Regions from separate parts of the Homo sapiens genome. Here region 1 is linked to region 2. The links come from fine-mapping of genetic effects on gene expression. A gene starts in region 2. The other region holds a variant in brackets. All regions are shown on one strand. Distances are from middle to middle. Region 1 overlaps SNAP91 (synaptosome associated protein 91). Region 2 holds the start of SNAP91 (synaptosome associated protein 91).

The links. PIP is the estimated chance that this variant, and not a neighbour inherited with it, causes the effect.
Region 1: its variant is the best candidate, but not a certain one, in a credible set for the expression of SNAP91 in spinal cord (GTEx, PIP 0.52).

Annotation. Positions count from the first base shown.
Region 1 is chr6:83,608,282-83,618,707 of GRCh38, forward strand. It overlaps SNAP91 (synaptosome associated protein 91), which reads right to left. Exons shown (of 30, transcript NM_001242792.2): 10 at 8,688-8,758; 11 at 6,576-6,581; 12 at 2,369-2,396. Among named protein-coding and RNA genes, the nearest start is that of SNAP91, 96 kb to the right of the region's middle. The variant T/C (reference allele first, on the strand shown) is at 4,084.
Region 2 is chr6:83,704,830-83,715,255 of GRCh38, forward strand. It overlaps SNAP91 (synaptosome associated protein 91), which reads right to left and starts at 4,272. Exons shown (of 30, transcript NM_001242792.2): 1 at 4,016-4,272; 2 at 2,969-3,128. The coding sequence starts at 3,098. LOC105377879 (a long non-coding RNA gene) reads left to right here and starts at 4,613. Exons shown (of 3, transcript NR_136251.1): 1 at 4,613-4,890. RefSeq lists silencers at 3,241-3,535, 3,945-4,154, 4,485-4,544.

The DNA.
Region 1 (10,426 bases), 97 kb before region 2:
TTGGAAGAGAACGATTCACAAGCAAGATTCAAGTCACTGATGTTTTGAAGATATCATGACTATAGCCCATCACTAAGATGACATAGATAAAACTAAAAAGGTAAAAATAAAATCTAGTATTTATTTTTCAAGAAGAGGTATTAATAGTCAATTAATATATTACAAGATTTTTATTTAGTTACTGTAACTAAACAATTTTGTCTGGTATATTTAATTCTCCATTCATTCACAAGAGAAAGATTAATGGAACATTTCAAAACAATGTATTGATACTTAGTTCTGTTAGTGGAGATGAGACATAACAGCAGGAAGATTCATGAAGACCAAGACCAAGCCAGGGCTATCAGATACTCCCCTAACTGGGCATCTGACTTCAAAGAGACCAAACATAAAGGAAGTTTTAAAAAGAATAATTTGAGGAAAAAAAAAACTGAGGAGATCAGAAATTTACAGAAATTTACAGACTTAAATATTATGTTTGTCCAAGAATATACTAATCCAAAAGTCAAAATTCAATAGTTATGCAAGTGCCAAGCATTTAGCACTTCAAGAAAGGTGGACACATGAGCAGTGTGGATGTTGTTAATCAGAAAATATCAACTCAGAACTCTCTCTTCAACAAAAATTCAAATCTTCCAAATGGAATACAAAACATGATCAATGGAAGAGAAAGGACTAGTTAAAGCTAATTGTATGTCATCCATTGGGAACACTGAGAAATCCTCTAAGAAAAGGTTTTTAAAAGCCAATGCATGTAAATAAGTTTAGAAAAAATGATATTGATGAAACACTGAGAACTTATTGACAGCAATAAATATTATCAACATAAATGCAAAAAATGAAACTCTACAGAAGCCCATTAAAAAATGCCTTGTAACAACAAGCTCTGAGGAGATGTAAGAGCTAGGAAAACAGAACCCAAATAATCTGTTATTACAAAAAGAAAAAGTCAGTAAAATTCAATTTGGCCGAAAAAGAAAAAAAAAAATTCAATTTGGCCAAAATGTAGAAACAGACCAACCCAAAGGATGCCACAATTTTACGACACTCTACTCAGCAGTCATATATTGGAGTTTTTCACATAGACATAATGGTTTTAAACCTGGCCTTATATCAGAATAAATGGAGCTTTTCACTTGTTTGTTTTATCTGACTGATTGTTCAAGGTCCCTGAGGGGATCTTAGGCAGCCAGCCAACCCATCACTGGCATAGTACATGGTGTCTGGAAATCACCAGTGCAGCCATAATGATATCCTTGAATATCTGTAATGACAGCAATTATATAATGGAAATTTGTCAAAGAGGAAAAAACACATCTATTACATTTTTGTCTGAAGAATACAATGGTAAATGTGAACTACAGACCTATAGAAGTAAATACTCTTGTCACTAATAACCCTAATCCTGTCCTTTCACATGGTAAAAAAGAGACAAGGAGGTAAACGAGTTATTAAAGTTATTATAGTCAACTGTCTAAAAGGCATATTTGTGGAAAGACACCCAATTACAATGGATTTCTCTACCTTTGAAACATGCACAATATCACATTACCTACCTCATACGACTCTGATTTAGAATATGTAAAAATGTTTTACAACTATTAAAACATTCTACTGATAACATTTGTTTTCTGTTGCAATATAAATACGTGAAAATCTCTCCAACTTTAAAAATATTTAGTCCAAACAAAGGACTAAATTACATATACTATACTACATTGGACTTAGAAACAAATACAAAGGAGGATACATAAAAACATAACTTACCTTTCCTCAAACAATTTAAATTAGAATTACCATATGACCCAGCAATTCCACTTCTGGGTATATACCCCCAAAGAATCAAAACCAGGGACTTAAATAGATATTTGTACACCCATGTTCACAGAAGCATTATTCATAAACCCAAATGATACAAGCAACCAAATATCTACTGATGGATGAATGCATGAATAAAGTGTGGTATATACATATAATGGAATATAATTCGGCCTTCAAAAGGGAGGAAATTCAGGCACATGGTACAACATGGCTGAACCTTGAAGATATGCTAAGTGAAATAAACCAGTCACTAAAAGACAGATTCTATATGCGCTCACATATATGAGGTTCCTAGGGTAATCAAATTCATAGAGACAGAAAGTAGAATGGTGGTTGCCAGGGGATCGGGGAGAGAGGGAGGTGGGGAGTTATTGTTTAATGGTATAGTTACAGTTTTGAAAGATAAAAAAAAAAGTTCCGGAAATGGATAGAGAGGATGGTTGTACAACAATGTTAAGGTATATAATGCCACTGAACTGTACACTTTATGATGGTAAAATGGTAAAAAACAAAAAACAAAAACCCCCAAACAAAAAACCAAACTTACCTTACTTAATGGAGAGGGAGCACCAGATCTAAAAGGCAACATAAAAAAAAATTAAAACTGAATATATATATATATATATATATATATATATATATATAAATATATATGTGAATATATTTGTAGAAGCATTTAAGTTGGATTTCACTTGGTCAAGCACTAACTTGTTTTATATACAGACTTTTAAAATAATGGACAGGCTATTTTTAAAAAACTTTTAATCTTTTACTTAATAATGACACCCCCTTCCACTGTTTTCCATCTACTTAATTTCCAGTACTAGAAATACTTAAATTCAACATTATTTTCCATATCTCTCGCAACTCAAATTCTTTGAGTCAAACATTATTGCCTATGTCCATAAAAAACAAACTGTCTAAATGGGAATTTAAAACCATTTTCAGAAGGCTTGGAAAAAACCATGCTTTGCAGAATTATGACAAACCCCAACACCCAGTGGTTTAAATCACTTAGGTTAAAGTACACTGTGAAGATCCCTACAGGCCCTGTGCTGAAATATGTCTCGGCTTCCATATTCATACTCTTGAAGTCTGTTTTCCCCCCCCATGGCTGTAATAAAAACTCTAGCAAGAATATTCTAGGAAAAATATTCCCATCATCCTGTTATAATTAGTGGGAGCTAGGAAAAAAACAGCAACTTCGATGCTTTTTTCTAAGAAAATGAGGGAAAATTAGGAAGGCGTGAATTTTAAGTTATATTACTGGTAGCATTGACTATTGCAGATCACTTCTAGGAAAGTGCTTCAGAAATAACTGCCAGAACAGCTCACATTTTACTAACTTCAGTTAGTGAAAAATGAATAACAAAACAAGATGAAGACTAAATACATTTCAATAAGCAGCCTATATTCACCGCCTTACTGCATGGCAGGGATGACTTTTTACTCATCTACAGAGAAAATATCACACACATAGCAGCAGCAAAACAAAATTACAGCAGAAATTTAGTAAGTAGAATTTTGTACAATATTATGAATTTTTGTCTTATTGGATATAGCAAATTTAACAGTATTATATGCCAAGTTAATATCTTTCTTTTTTTTTTTTGAGACGGAGTCTCACTCTGTCACCCAGGCTGGAGTGCAGTGGCGCAATCTCAGCTCACTGCAAGCTCCGCCTCCCGGGTTCACGCCATTCTCCTGCCTCAGTCTCCCAAGTAGCTGGGACTACAGGCGCCTGCCACCACGCCCGGCTAATTTTTTTTTTTTTTTTTTTTTTTTTTTTTTTGGATTTTTAGTAGAGACGGGGTTTCACTGTCTTAGCCAGGATGGTCTCGATCTCCTGACCTCATGATCCGCCTGCCTCGGCCTCCCAAAGTGCTGGAATTACAGGCATGAGCCACCGCGCCAGGCCCAAGTTAATATCTTTTAAGTTCAACTTCATTTGCAAATACATGCCTGCCATTTCCTGTTTGAATTTAATTTCTACTTAAAATGAATATAAACAACAGGTAGCAAGGGCACAGAGATTTCTGCTATATAACAAGCATAAGGGTAACAACTTGGTTACATGTAGTTTGGCTAAATGTTATCTTAAGAGTAATATAGTCTATGAGGGAAAGGATATACCTTTATCTATACTGTCCGTGTCAAAGGGTCTACTGAAATATCTACAGTAAATTCCTTAAGAACCTAAAAATCTAGTACAGCATACGGTGGGAAATGTCCTAGTGAGTTTTGGCTAATAATTTCTCCACT[T/C]CCACTATTTTTTCCCTTTACGTATGGAAAAGGAAGGGAGTTAAATCTAAATAAAAATTCAAGAAAATAGTAGCATGAATTCTACAAAGAAAACATAGAAGCCTTTGGTATGGTCACTTTCTAAGAATGAATTAATTTAAATTAATTTGTTTCTCTCTCAAGCAATTTTCATAAACCAATTCTTAGTGGTATTGATACAATTATAAATACTAATAAAGAAAAGAGAAGAGGCCAGGTGCGGTGGCTCACGCCTGTAATCCCAGCACTTTGGGAGGTAAAGGCAGGCAGATCACTTGAGGTCAGGAGTTCGACACCAGCCTGGCCAATATGGCGAAACCCTGTCTCTACTAAAAATACAAAAAAATAAAAAATAAAAATTAGCTGGGTGTGGTGGCACGCGCCTGTAATCCCAGCTACTCAGGAGGCTGAGGCAGGAGAATCGCTTGAACCTGGTGGGTGGAGGTTGCAGCGAGCCGAGATCGCACCACCGCACTCCCTCCAGTCTAGGAGACAGAGCGAGACTCAGTCTCAAAAAAAAAAAAAAAAAATATCAACAGCTTTAGAAATACATTTCCAAACTAATACCTAAAATATTATAACTTCTTCTATAACATCTTCTACCCCACAGCAAGAATGAAGATATAATAAAAATGATAGAATTGTTCTACCTGCTATAAAAAAGAGTATCATACTTAAGTATGAAAAATCATAATTGGTACAAGAATCATTTTGCCAAGCTTCCACATAAACAATATTAGTAAATGATACTTGCAGTTATCCCATGAATTATGCAAACAAACAAAACCCTCCTACTGTCTCTGTTGAGATATCCCACTTACCACATTACATCTTAGTTGCCTGTTTAATTCTCTATCTTCTTCACTAGATACTAAGTTTTTTGAAAGGAAGGAACTCATCCCATTGTTTTATATCCCTAGCACTTTACATATCATCTGACATTTTCTGTATTATTTGAATTTTTATATTAGAATATGTTCAGGTATTCATTCTATAATCAATAAATTAACCAGACGTCTTTAAAAAGTTATTTTCTGTGAAACAAAACTGTCAGGATGCGTGACCTCTGTTTTCTAACCAGAGTTGGCTTCTGCCATGATTTAATTAAAAGGTTGAGAACCAGAGGTGCTCCAATGGGGCCATAGCTTTCAAAAGCACCATTAATCACTGATTAAACTCTGAAGGTTCCCAGGCTCGGAGAGGTTAATAACTTTCCCATGTCTCATCATGCTTTAACGGTGGATTCCAGACTCTAGTCCAAGTCTATATGCCCCTCAGAGCCTATGCTCAGTCCACATTCCAACCCCCAAAACACAGATAAACTTGGCACATTTGCTTCTCTCTTACACAACATATAAATTGCTCTTCTTATGTGTTTCTCACTTGATTTTCCACCCTAATGTTAGTCATTGCCCTTTAGGAAAGAAGATACTACATCATTTACATATAGACAATATTTGTTAAAAAGACCAATACTTCTATTAATAATTTCACCTAGAAAAATCTAGTAGATAATGAACCATGTTGGAAAAACAAGGCATTAAGGTAATTTTAGAAGAAAATGAATGACCCATATAAGTAATCTACTCTAAATTCTGTAAAATTACTACAAACTCATGGGTTTCACTATGAACACAGCAAATGTCCATATTTCTTTCCAAGATGTTAACAGGAAGCTGTCAAATAGAATATTTTGTTAAGTTTTATATGAGTCATAACAATAATCCCTACATAATTTTGAGTATAAGTGCTAGCCAGAAAAAAATACAGATGTGAAAGATCTATCTACATCCTTCAAATAACTTGAATTACAAAAGATTTATCTTAAATTTCCTGTAACCTCAACACTTAGTAAACCCACATAAATAATAAAATAAATTTCTCTCTTTTGTCCTGTGGAATTATAGAAACAGACAATATATAAAGGTATATCACAGAGTATTGCATAAAATTACAGAAATAAACAGCAGTGGACACAAGGTACTAAATATAAAGGGCATACATATTCTTCATAGCAGACATTTGCAAATGCTTCAATTTATGTATATACTTGGTTTGGAGGTTAGAATAGTTTTATACTGTGACCAGAAGACAAATAAAACAATTTTAAGTAATTAATTTTCTTTATAAATTTGTCTTTTCGCATTTATGCTATAAGCCATGGGGAAGTCTTTTGTTTACTAAACAAATAAAAAATATTTCATTTCTAAAATCTGAGGAATATATTAATATAAATACATATATACATCTAAGAGAGACTGTTAGTCTATATCCAAGAAGACCGAAAGAAAGTAAAACCATTTATGCTAGTCAACTTGGGAGACAAAAATAAAGCATAATGAAAAAACACAGATGTGTAAAAGGGACAGAAATCAGTTTTAAATCTTCTAAATACCAAATGTGGAATCTTAAGAGTGTTTTTTGCATTTTTAGTAATTACCAAATGCAAAAAACTCACTCCATACAGTACTCACCCTTCACTTAAGTTCCAAGGTAAGCACAAACATACAAAGAAGAGAATAGTTAACTATTATAGTTCATTTATTTTAAAAAATAGGGAATAAGCAAAAGACAAGTTCAAATGTGGTTTTAGCCAATTCAGAAGAGAAATATGACAAGCATAAAATGATTTTAAAGGAAAAAGAAAAATTATTCTAAGAAAAAAGTAATTTGAAATGGAGGACTATTGAATTTTAAATTTCACTTCTCTAGAAATGTAACTAAATGTCCATAGCTATTTTTTTTTCCAAAAATAGCTTGTGGTGACCACAAGGGGGCGAATTTAGATTTGAAGTCAGGGCTAATGAGACCCATTCTAGCTACCCAAGGAGGCTTCTCTGTGACTGCAGCACTGATAGATTTAACAAAAAACAAGGGAAGGGTGTGGCCCTATATGGGGTTTGGGGGACCCTGAGTGGAAGAGTGCAGAGAAGCTGACTTACAGTGTGCATCCAGCACTGCACAAGACAGAGATTTTAACTTTAGCGGATGTACATATTTCCTTAGCTAAAGAGGTCCTTCTGTCACAGGAACAGAAACATTTCTCAGCTTCCTGTCTCCATTTGCTTAAATCCTAGGCAACTCATTTGGCTTCCCAGATACCCTAATAGAGGGTGGGCCTAGAAATAACTGAACTAGGGCATCTCTTATTGTGATCTAATGTACTCTCATGTCAAGTCTGATCATCCCCGGCCACGCTGAGATTGGAGGCAGAGCCTGGACTGTGGAAACAACCTTGAAAGAGCCCCTGAGAGCTCCTACTATCCATCATTCCAAATAGCTCTGCCATAATTGTCTGTAATACTCTTATACTGTTGCTTATCACTGCAAATTTAAAACACGCAATAATTTCTACACTAACTTGAAAAAATATTATAGAAATAACACAGCTAATGAAATAACCAGAAAAAAAAAGTAACATCAAGACACAAGCCTAGATTCTGGGAGAATGTCCAGAGGCAACAAAGTCAGAAAATAGTTGCATTTTGATAGCTCTGTCATAGGTAAAATCTGTGATCAGCCTACAGCCCTGAAATGATCATTTTACGGGTTGTCTCTACTAACTCCTGCTGTCAACCAAAATGGAATAAACAGAAAGCTGGTATCATCAACAGAGACAGATTCCAAGCTCTCCCTGTAGAGGACATACATTAAGTGTTTAAATGGACATAATGAAGTATAAAATAGTCCCTAACCTTTAGATTCAGAAAATCTACTTAAATCATACATGTAAAAAAAGAAATAGCCACAATACTGAGCAGTTCAAGATAAAGAAAGGCTTCATGAGAAGGTAGGACTAGAGATGGCCTTCCCAGGATGCATAAGATTTACAAAGCAGGACAAGGAGGATGGGCATCCTAAGACTTGCAGAATTATAGTCTGAAAAAGGCACAAAGATTGGAAAACACCAGGCCTTGTGAATAGACAAGTTTCAGACCTGCTGGAGAGATGGAAAAAGAAAAAAAAAGGAACCTGGACATTTCGTGCATGTAGTGAGGAAAAATAGTCAAAAATATAAGTACTCAAACACAGAGGTATGAAAATCTAGTAAAACTGTACTTATCATTGCTTGATTGCTATTCTCTATATAAAAGGATCTATGAATAAAATGTCAGTAGTATGCCATGCCTAATAGTTCAAGTAGGGAGATACTGGAGTCCAAAAAACTATACTTGAGGGCTTTTCTTTTTTCACAGTGGGGTTGATAACGATAATAGAGTGCTCAAGGCTGCTTGTGAAATTGTGCTTGTTTTCACTCATGTCCAATGATAACAGCTTTGATTTTTAAACAGGAGTAACTATTTTTCCATATATTGTGAATTCCTTCTAAAGGCAAATGTTCAAATCATTAGGTTCAGTTAATGTAGGTACAATCTACTAATTTGCTGCATTAGCCTGCAGAGAGATTGTCTATACCCACTGTCATAAGTTAATAGGAAGAGTAGGGGTTCTGAGGGAGCCCAGAAAATTATAACAAAGCATACCCTAAAACTAGAGCAATATAAGTTGTACCATGATAAATCTCATTCTTAGAAGAACGACTGTAGTATTTTTCATCTTATTTAGAATATACAACTAATGCGTACTTGTTTCCAGGTTTCTTTCCTTCTAATGTATTTAGATGCTGTTCAAGCGTCTCCATAAGACTGCTGGGAGCCTACAATAAGAAAGTAAAAATAAATGTCTGCATTGTTTACTTTCAATGTAAACACACTGTAATGTCACTGTAACTGTATGGTGGAAGTCTGTGGATGGACCCCGATATATATGTGAGATAATTTAATTGCAGGTTCTTTTAGTATTTAAATATTTAAATTCCATAGACTTTCAGACAGACCCATCTTAAATAGACTTAACTCCACTGCATAACAAATAGCATTACAGTGTGGTTTCAGTGTAGAGATTACATTGGATAGACTTTTACTAATACATTACTTATATGCAGTAAACTCAAATCAAGTTCACCACCTCCTTCTCATAAGACCATAGTAAAAATGAATAAGTGTTTGTATTCAAGTCAAAAATATGAGTGCCCAAATACAAATTTACAGAAATTTGAAAATACAGTAAAATCTCACTTATCTATGTTTGTCTGAAATATTAGGAAAAACCATTTAAATATATTTTAAAAAGGTGGTGAGTGAGAGTTGTGGGGAAAAGAATATAATTCTAATAATCAATAACAATTAAGATTTTATTATTGACCTATTTATATATAAAAATATATTTATATGTATAATAAAGTAACTTTTAGCAAATATAATATCAGAGCACTGTGTATTGGCAAATTTAATAAGTTTCAACTCTTATTAAGAAATACTTGAATGTTTCCTTTTATAAATAATATTTTAGGCAATATAAAGTGATGACATTTCACTGTATACTTAAGGAGAAATAATAGGTTCACGCAAATTTTTCACCCAATCTATTCCTTAAGCATTAGAGATTTCATTTCATCTTTCTCAAATAGTTGTAATACAAATTAGACCTTAACAGCAGCATAGGCATTCAAAGAATAGCATTTCTTAAATGAAATATATAACTACCCTTATAGGTATATTTAATTCTGACAATTCTTCTTTAAATTAATGTGAAATTAATTTTGAAGGACATTGAAGTAACTATGGTAACTGATAAAGGAACTCACAGAATTCACAGACATTCATATAACTGTATCTTTTACACTGTACCTTTAATGACAGAATGAAATTCTTACTAAAAATCTTTAATTTTGAAAATTCAGGACATTTATTTAATATTCATTTTTCATTTCACTAATAGACTCTTAAAACTGTCTTAACATTCATGTGATTATTATATTTGTAATTATGTGATTATTATAAGTGTAAATTACCAAGTGAACTAAAACATGTAAATTTAGATATATAAAAATTACTAAGTGAACCAAAATATTAATTTGATCAAAATGATGAAGGTAAGATAGAAAGGAACAGCCCTGTCGGCATTATTTTAAAAGCTTTGAACTATAGAGTTAAAAAAAAAAGATTATCGGCATCTAATAAGTTTAGAAAATTACAAAAATTAGGATTTTAAAATACAACTCAGATGAAAATGGACTTAATAAATTCTAATAAAACACAACTAAGACAATATTTCTAAGTTTAAAAAATGAATTTTAAGAGATACAGAAAATTTTGTTATAGATACCAGATTATAAACTATAAAGAAATGCTCATTGAATAAAGAATGTACATAGTAACATTAAAAATAAAAAAATAAATGGCTTCAAAATTTTTAGATGAATTCACATCTGATAACTTCAAAATTGTCATACTAATTGCCAGTGATGATGATAATGATGATG
Region 2 (10,426 bases):
CTCTTTTTCTCCCAACCAGTATTTAATATTTTCAAAACTAAAACACCAACTACTTGAGAATCTTCAATGCCTATAAAGAAACTTAATTATGTGTTTGCATGTTTTAATAACAATTCACTTTTATAACTGGTGTTTACTGAAAACCTGTGAATAAATTACTGAGGTAGTTTACTGTTTCTTTAAAGGAACTTCACAAAGAATTCTGAGCAAAGATGTCCTCTTAATAATGCATATAACATATACATTCAGGTTTTCCATATCATCTTCTCTTAGAATAGTACATATTAGTAATGTGATAACTATGTCTCCAAATTCCATCCAAAAGTTGGTTTTAAGTAGAAGATGTTTTATTTTATGACTTATTAGAAAAGTAAAACATTAAAAAGAAAAACCACTAACCAATACTCCTCAGTGCTTGGTTTTTGGTCATTTTTTTATGCAACAGAATTAAAATATTTTCATTCAATTTTTTCATGATAGAATTAAAATTTTTTCATGCATATTATAAAGACTGCAATATGTACGCGGATTTTGATGCTCAATTCCACAGAAAGCTATGCAAGCAAGGTGGGTGTTTTAGAGATTAGACCATTTAGGTTAATATGGTTCATTTTCTCTCCTCTCTCAATAAAGTATATTACTAATCTACAGATGGCAGTTAAGTGTACTGGTTAAAAGCTATGAAAGTTTGGACAGGGGAAGTAGCAGCTCACTCCTGTAATCCCAGCACTTTGGGAGGCCAAGGTGGGCAGATAACCTGAGGGAAGGAGTTCAAGACCAGCCTGGCCAACATGAAGAAACCCCATCTCTACTAAAAAAAATACACAAAAATGAGCCAGGCGTGGTGGTGCATTCCTGTAAGTCCCAGCTACTCAGGAGGCTGAGGCAGGAGAATCACTCGAACCTGGGAGGCTGCAGTGGGCCGACAATGCACCACTGCACTCCAGCCTGGGTGACAGAGTGAGACTCCATCTCACAAAGAGAAAAAAAAAAAGCCATGAAAGTTAATTACCCTCCCTGAACCCATTAAGTGATGAAAGATTAATAATATAAAGTTCAGTTCGTGCTATATAGTAACTGCTCAATAAATGTTCAGCTCTTATGACCATTCATATTAATAATTCAACACCAGTTCCTATTTCAGCTGCTTTCTTTTATAACATGGAATCTTCCCCCTATTTTCCACATCTTAGAAATCATATTGGAAAACCTCCTACCTTCAAATTTTCAAAAGACTTTTCCACTAAAATACTAATGTGACTAAATATTTAGATCTGGAGAAGTCAGCCTTTATCTGAATGATGTTTTAATGAAATGTTCAAACCTGTGAATGTTCTCTGAAATATATCAGTATACTGATTTATCATTTTAATTATAGATCAGCATGTAGCAAATTCATAACCTATACCTTTCTTATTATGAGGATTTTCTAGACTGATATATACCTTTAAGACATGAATCATTCTTCCAGAGTTGGGGAAACTGATGGGAAAATGGCTAAATGATTCAGCATGCTGCAGCAAAGTGATCTGGTCACAAATTTACAATTTCTACTTCTCTTAGGTGCCCTGGCCCTGGTGGCCTCTTTCATCCTGTACTGCATATATAACATATAATGCTGTAATCAATAAATTTAGTTAAACATTCCCTTGGGAAAGGCATAATGGTACTTTCCCCTCCGATGAGCTTCTAGAAACAAAATTATTCAATTCTATGAGACAACAGGTTCACAAGGCTGGACAACTCTTACAATGTCCAGTTGTAAGCTTCATCAAGCTTCGCTTATGCAGATAATAGGGCTAGAGTGAATTCTGACACTGGTGCCATTTTCTTAGCTGCACAAAGGAAATAGCAGGAAAAAGACCCAAGACCAAAAAAACCCAGAAGATGGGCAAAGGAAGCCAGCTGAGGAAATGGCTGTGGCCATACCTGTGTCTCTCATGCCAACATTCACCTTTACCAAAAACATCACAATAGAACAGAAGATCCTAAGCAGGTCAAGAGAACTAAATAGCAACTGCTGAACATACACTCATATAGCCTGACTTATGAGAAACCTCACCACCCAAAGCAGGTGAAAGCCTTTTTCTTTTCTAAGTGCCTCTGTTTATCCTTCGGTGACAAAAGATTTACTGTTAATTAAGGTATTTCAGAAATATATAGATTCCAGAGTAGAATAAAGCCTTTTCCATCAAATAACCAGTTACAAAAATAATATTAAGAATTAAACGGTTTCATCTAAAATTGCACCATCTCAGATGCTGGGGAAGTACATCCATTTTGTGACCATAGCATAGTCATCTCACCCAGCATTTTCTGAGAATGGGACAAAGTGTGCCAGGATGTGTAAAATGAAATTGCCATAGCTATGAAGTCCAATTTCCTCATTCAGTACCTTGAATTTATTTCAGTTTGGTATGGTAACATACCTCACACACACACACACACACCCATACTCACAAAAACAATCCTCAGGAGCAACACTTAAAAAGATTATACTACCTTAGAACTATCTGAAATGTATTTAGGAAAGAACTAGGGTGACAAGTTTGACCTTCCATAAATTCATCTTTTTTTTTTTTGACTGTGCAACCTCTAATTTCCTCTAATTTGGAGAAGGGAGGGTGGGTGGAGAAAGAAAAAAAGGTGAAAAACATCTAATTCAGTGTGTACAATCTCTCTCTTGTGTGTGTGTATATACATATGCGTGTGTGTGTGTGTGTGTGTGTGTATTTTTCCCCCTCCACCAAGACCTTGGAGGTCAATAAGAGGAAAAAATGGCTCACAAGACAAGGTTTCATGGCTAACCCAAGGGAACACCTTCACAGCTGAAGAATTTCAGCTCAGGGGCAACCTGGCTGGGAGTATCAGAGGCCACAGCATTATGGACCAAGAGCGCAGGCCGCACCACCAGCATCCCAGGCGCCTCTGCCGTGCGCATGTCCCTCTTATATAAAGAGATGCTTACAGTCCAGGTGCTTTTTCTTGGGGCCCATTACTTCATGAGTAGTGGCTTTGCAGACCGCTCTTGCTACAGCAGAGCCTGTAACGCTGTACTGAGCGGCGGCGATCCGATCCGTGAGCGTTTGGCCCGACATCTTCTGTGGTCGCGTCTACCGCCTCCTCTTCTGCAGGAAACAAGGGGAGACGGTCCGGCTTTAATCCGCAGACCCTACCCTCCAAGCACCCAGGCCTTGCCTCCTCCAGCCGCGCGGCGGCTCTCTCCTCCTCCATCCCCACCCTGGCACCACCTCTCGGAGCCAGCAACGCGCCAAGCCCCGCTCCTGCGATGCGGTCCAGGGAGTCTTGGCCGTGAGTAGGGCCGTCACGGAACCCCAGCGTGGGCTCCAGTCGCAGCATCGTGACACCGTCCCCATTCTCCCCCGGCCCCCACATAGGGCCAGACTCACCCCCTGGGGACCCCCCTGTCAATCAGCACTTTCCCCGCAACCTGACCCGCGGGTGCTGGACTAGCCACAACGTGCGTTGGGGTTATTCCCTGGGCGCCGCACCCACCGGTGCCCATCTCCCACCTCAGCAGACTTTCCTCCTAGCAGCCCGCAGGCTTCGGGGAATGCATCGGATACCCAAGCCCTGGCTGCCTCCCTCCTCCTCCTCGCGCTGCTGCAGCAAAGGGCTCGTCCTCCCTCAGTCGCGAAGGAGATTATCCTAGCGTTGCGCCATGTTATGCCCTCGCCTCCCCTTCCTTCCTCGCCGCCGGCTCCAAAGCCTCGCCGAGGCCCATCGCCCGGGCCCCTTCCCCCCGGTTCCAAATCCCTGCCGCAGGGGCCGCCCGGGAGCTCTGCGGAGGCGCCGGAGTCTTGGGGCGCCTCACCCTTCCTGGCTTTGGAGAGGAGCCGGGCTGACAGCGAAGCCCAGTCCCCCGCCCGCCCTGGAGCGCTCCGCGGAGCTGTCACTCGGCCGCTGCCCTTCTCCGCACCCTGGGATTATCCTCTGCGGATCCCCGCGAGACCCTGGCGCGGGGAGGGGGCCGAGTACGGCCGCGGGTACTCACCCCGCCCCTGAGCGGCGCCGCCCGCCGCAGGATGAGCGGAGCCCGGGCCGCCGAGGGAAGCCGCGCCGGTGGATGTGTGCGACCGCGCGTAGCCCCGGTGCCCCCGGGCGCAAAGTCTCCAGCCCTGGCCGGGCCCCGCTCCTCAGCTCCGCGGTCCCGGCGCCCACCGCCCCTGGCCCCTGGCCCCAGAAGCCAGTACCCGCCCGCCGCCGCCTCTTCTGCCAGCGCCGCCGCGTCTCTCTAGCGCTCCGAGCTGCGTCCCCATCCCCGCCCCCACCTCAGCTGTGGCTCCTCCGACGAGTCAGGTGACGGCGGCGGACAAACCCGGACGAGCCCTCGGCGGAGCGCCTCGCGGCCCCCTCCCAGCTACTCACACACACCGCCCCCCGGGGCCGGGAGCTTAAAGGCGAGGGGGCGCCTCGCGCAAGCATCCCCGGCAAGCCGGCGGGGAGAAGAAGGAGGCGGGGAGGCCGACACCCACCCAGCCAGCGGCTCTCCGCTGGGCGCCGGGCCGCCCCTCCGCTGCTGGCGCCGCACCCGGCACGCACTGGGCTCGCGCACCACGCACACCTGCCCGCCGACTGCGGGGGGAGCCCTGGGCGTTGGGGGCGTTGGCCAAGACGGGCGAGTGGGCTTCTCGGGTTCTACTCTGTGAAGGCCAAGGCAAGGGCGTCGTCGCGCGCTGCCTGGCGGAGCCCAGCCCCTTCCCCACACTGTCGCTGACACGCCCGCCTGTCAAAGGCTCCGAGGCCCAGATGAGCAGGGCGATTTTAAATGTCAGATCCTGCCGGCCATCCGCGACCGTCACCTGTGCGTCTTCAGCTCCTCAGGCTCCTCCGCTTGTCTCAGTTACAACTGGGAGCCCGGGTGGGCAGGTAATTCTAGCCACTTTAGTCTTAAACGGATACTGAGGTCTGCTGAAGGGAGAATAATTAACACAGCCGTTAATCGAGTCCCAGATTACCTTCGACAGTAATCATTTGCGTGCATAAAGAAAACCCTTTGTACCCTTAAGAAGTAATTTCTGCCAATTAAATATAGTGTTGGAACGTCCGTCAATTGTATGTCAAGTGTATATTCGAATAGTAAGCAGGAATTTCTAAACAGGGATGTGGAGTTGGTTAATAGCTTCACGTGTTGACATTTTCAAAGGTTGTTATTTATGTTCACCTTTTTTTTTAATTCTCACAGTAGCATGAAGATCAAAACTATATTTGTGAGCTTTCCTGGCATTTTTTCTCCTTGCTTCGGGTGGCTTCTGCTCGGCCTTGAAGCCATATATCGATACCTATCGATCTCAACGTTTTGTTATATATTCCTCTCTTTCACCTGGTACAGTGTTCAGTATGCAGTCATGATTTCCTAACTACTGAGACTGATTCTAGGACTAATTGGAAGCTTAATGACTAAAGAGAGACAGCTTAAGAGCACTATTGTCTCAAGTACTAGTCTTACCATATTTACAAGGGAAATAAAAACGCAATTCTATTAAAAAAACTTGTACTCCAGTTTTATAGCAGCTTAATATAATGGCCCCAAACTGGAGGAAAGCCAAATGTTATTCTACTAGTAAATGAATAAACAAAATATGGTATATCCACATAATGGAATACTACTTAGCAATAACAAGAAACAAACTAATACCATTCATGAATCTCAAATTCATTAGACGAAGGGAAAGAAGCTCTATCAAAAATTCTACTTATTATTTTGATTTCATTTATGTAACATTCTGGAAAAGTCAAAACTATAGAAACAGAAAACACATCAGGTGCCGAGTCAGGTGACGGTGGCATTGGGGGAGGGGACTGCAAAGGGGCAGAAGGAAACTTTTTGGAGAGATGGAAATGTTTTATATCGTGACGGTGATGATGATTATACAGCTGCATGTATTTCTCAAAACTCATCAATTTGTACACTTAAAATTGGCGAATTTTGTTGTTTGTTAATTATACCTCAATATAATCTGATAGAGTTGGGAGTGGCAATATTAATATCAAAGTAGGTTTTACAATAAGGAATATTAATAGCAATAAACAGGCACATTTCATAATGAAAAATTCATTAAGAGCATGGAACAATTCTACTTGTTTGTATATCTAAGAACAGAGCTTCAAAGTAGGACGAAGCAAAACCTAATAGCATTAAAAGGAGAAACAGGCAAATCCACAATTATACTTCAGGATTTCAGCACTTTTCTCTATGTAATAAATAGGACAAGTAGACAGGAAACCTGTAAGGGTATAGATGACTTGAAATAGCCCTGTAGGCCGGACGCGGTTGGCTCATGCTTGTAATCCCAGCACTTTGGGAGGCCGAGCCAGGCAGATCATGAGGTTAGGAGATCAAGACCATCCTGGCTAACACGGTGAAACCCCGTCTCTACTAAAAATACAAAAAAAAAAAAAAATTAGCTGGGCGTGGTGGTGGGTGCCTGTAGCCCCAGCTACTCAGGAGGCTGAGGCAGGAGAATGGCGTGAACCCGGGAGGCGGAGCTTGCAGTGAGCGGACATCGCGCCACTGCACTTCAGCTGGGGTGACAGAGCAAGACTCTGTCTCACAAAAAAAAAAAAAAAGAAAGAAATAGTCCTGCAGACCAACTTCACCTAATTGACATTTATAAAATAGTCCACCCAACAGTAGTGGAATACTTTCTTAAAGTGTGCATGGAATATTCTCCAGGATTGACCATACTGACTGATCCTAAGCCATGAAGCTAGTCTCAATAAATTTAAAAGGATTATAATCATACACATTATGTTCTCTTACCACAGTGGAATTTAACTAAAAATCGGTGACAGATAGATATATGGAAATCTCTAAATATTTGGTAATTAAACAACACATTCCAAATAACCCATAGGTCTAATTTTCTCATAAGAAAATTGGAAATTTATTTGAACTAAATAATAATGAAAATCCAACATATCAAAATTTGTGGGTTGCAGGCAAAGTGGTGATTAGAGGCAAATTTATAGCATTAAAATGCTTAGGAATGAAGAAAGATCTAAAAATATTTATTTGAGTTTGAACCTTAAGACACTAGAAAAAGAATAAATTGAATTCAACATGAGCAGAAAGAAGGAAGTAATAAAGAGTACAAATCAATGAAAGAGAAAATGACAAATAATAGATAAAATCAATTAAACCAAAAGCCATTTTTTGGAAAAGATCACAAAATGGATAACCCCACTAGCCAGATTGAGCAAGGAAAAAATAAGATGGCAAAAATTTCCAATTTTAGGAGTGAAAGGAGAAATCAATTCTATGGACATTAAAAAATTAGAGAATGTTATAAACAACATTGTGCAATAAGTTGGACAATTTACATAAAATGAGGAAGTAGTATAAAATAATGGTTCTCCAACAGTCCAATAATGATGTAATGTCACATATGTTGCTATTAGTTAAGAGGTTTTGAGCAAATAACATGTTTCCAATAATAATTAAAATAATGCAATCTGTGAATGATTTATTTTTCAAAATAGATTGGAATGGATTCAAAGTCAATCCTATAATAGTGTGCAGTTACATACAATACACTGGGAAGTATTTGAAGCCAGAGCTTATTCTTGGTATGCTACCCATGTCTCTGGTACTATACATGGGAGAATATCCCACACATAAACATCCTGACATAGTGTTAGCAGAATGTTTGAAAATCCCTCAACTATAGAAGTATCATATTCTTATAATAAATAATCAATAAATAATGTCAAGGATGGAACCAATATATGAAATGTGGGTTGTTTTGGAAGATCTTAATGAGCGTTGAAAATAGTAGCATATTTTCAGTAGCAAAGATTTGGAGATGCTGGCTTCTTACAGCCAGGAAAATCTAGAGTTACATCCATGAATGTTATATACTAAAGTGAAAGAAAGAAAATAGACTAAAAGAAAGAAATATATTGAGATAAAAAATTACTTGTTGACATGTTCTCTTTGAAGGCACAGGAACGTAATAAATGATATTCAATAAATCTTAGGCAAGAATAAGAATTGACATTTAATATTTTACAAGTTGAAATATCTTTGATCTCAGTGGTCAGAAAATAGGGTAATTATAATAAACACCCCAAACTGCTTTTTAAAAATACATATTGAGGCTGGCGCGGTGGCTCATTCCTGTAATCCCATCACTTTAAGAGGTGGAGGACAGCAGATCACTTGAGGTCAGGAGTTTGAGACCAGGATGGCCAACATGGTGAAACCCCGCCTCTACTAAAAATACAAAAAATTAGCCGGGCATGGTGGTGTGTGCCTGTAGTCCCAGCTACTGGGGAAGCTGAGTCCCAAGAATCACTTCAAGAAGTTGCAGTGAGCTGAGATCATGCCACTGCACACCATCCTGAGACTCCGTCTCAAAAAAAAAAAAAAAAATTGAATTTATTTTCTGGGCCAATATACATAAATGCATATATGCTACTAAACAGATTTTTTGTAAGTCTCTGATTTATTTATTTATTTACTTTTTGTATAGACGGTCTCATTTTATTGCCCAGGCTGGTCTTGAACTCCTGGCCTTAAGTGATACTCCTGCCTTGACCTCCCAAAGCACTGGGATTACAGGTGTGAGCCACCATACCCAGCTAAGTCTCTGATGTAATACACATGTTTTCTTCTGAGTATCAGATTTAATACAGAAAAATCAAGCCAACAATAATTACACGTAGACCAACAATTTATTTCAGCACGAGGGCAAGTGTCTTCAAGTTCTTGATTTCAATTTATTTGTAAGATACAACACGTGTACAAGAAACAGAGAAAAATAAAGCTGAAGATAATTTGATTGGCTCAGATAACAACCTGAGGTGAAATTAGAAAATTTATACCTTTCTCCTAAATCTATAATATTCTCAAGGTAAAACTATAGGGTGAATTTCATTCCAGGAATGCTTTTCTGTCAAAGTAGAAAAAAACACATTGGTACAAGAATAACCACCCTGATTCTTATTCAATGAATCTTGTATGAAAGACTTAACTTTATACCTCTCAGAGGTTTCTGTGGATTCGTCACAAAGGTTTACTTTTGTGTGTCACTGTGGTAGTTAGTCCCCCAATAAATCTCCTCCCTTTGCATCTGAGCTGTCTCTGTAACTTGCTTTTGATCAATAAAATACAACAGACTGATGCTTGGCAGTTAGGTCATAAGAAACCTTATAGCCTCCACCTATGTTTCTTAGAACATTCCAACTTGGGATGTTCCCTCTTGGAAGCCAGCCACCGTGTAAGAAATGTGTTTACCCTGAACCACTCTACATGAGTAGCCCAAACACACAGAGATGCCCTGCGTAGGTGCTCTGGTCAAAACCCCAGCCCAACTCTCATTTAAACAGCCAGTTTCATCTGCCAGATGTCAAAGTGCATAAGCCATCTCAGGTAGCCCAGAGGAGAATTCCAATGACTACAGACCAGCTGTCACCTGACTGCAACTACATAAAAGACTTCAAAGGAGAACTACCCAGCAGAGTCCTATTCACTCACAAAATTGTGAGAAAGAATAAAAATTTGCTGTTGTATGCCACAAAGTTTGTTATACAGCAATAGACAATAGATTTAAAACTGGGAAGCAAATGAAAATAACATACTTAAATTGTTTTTGTGCCATTAGGCATGTAAAATGTACATGTTCCTTTTATCATGCCAGTTGTCATGTTGAATTCATTTCTAACCTGAATTTTAGGCAAAACAAAACTTAGTAAATATGTTTGTTCTGGCTTGGAATATACTTCATTAACTGTAATTCTTAAGAAACTTGAATGGTTTCATGGATGAATGTTATACTTCCCTAAGATAATCGAGTTGTTTGAATCTCAATCTTACTGATATTTTGTGCAAGCTACAATTTTTCTTGCTACACTAGGGTGTTCATCAGTTTTATGGTCTTTTTCATTTGTTGTCTTATAAAAGAGAAGCAAGCTTTTTGTCTCTGCTCAAGTGCATTCAGGATACCATAATTTGCTTTTTGTTGTGAATTGCTTTTGAGTTTGGGTGAAGATGTCACATTTGTGTGTAGGAGTGGAAAATTATTTTAACATAAATTAAAATAACACATTGAATTATTTCCTCCGTTGAAATATTCTTTATTATGTAGCAAGTCATATTAGTCTGTTCTCATGCTACTAATAAAGACATACCCAAGACTGGGTAATTTATAAAGGAAAGAGGTCTAATTGACTCACAGTTCAGCATGGCTGGGAGGTCTCGGAAAACTTAACAATCATGGCAGAAGGGGAAGCAAACACGTCGTTCTCCACATGGCGGCAGGAAAAGAAGTATGAGAGCTGAGCGAAGGGGGAAGCCCCTTATAAAACCATCAGATCTCATGAGAACTTACTCAGTATCATGAGAACAGCATGGGGACAACCATCCCCATGATTCAGTTACCTCCTACCAGGTCCCTCCCACAAC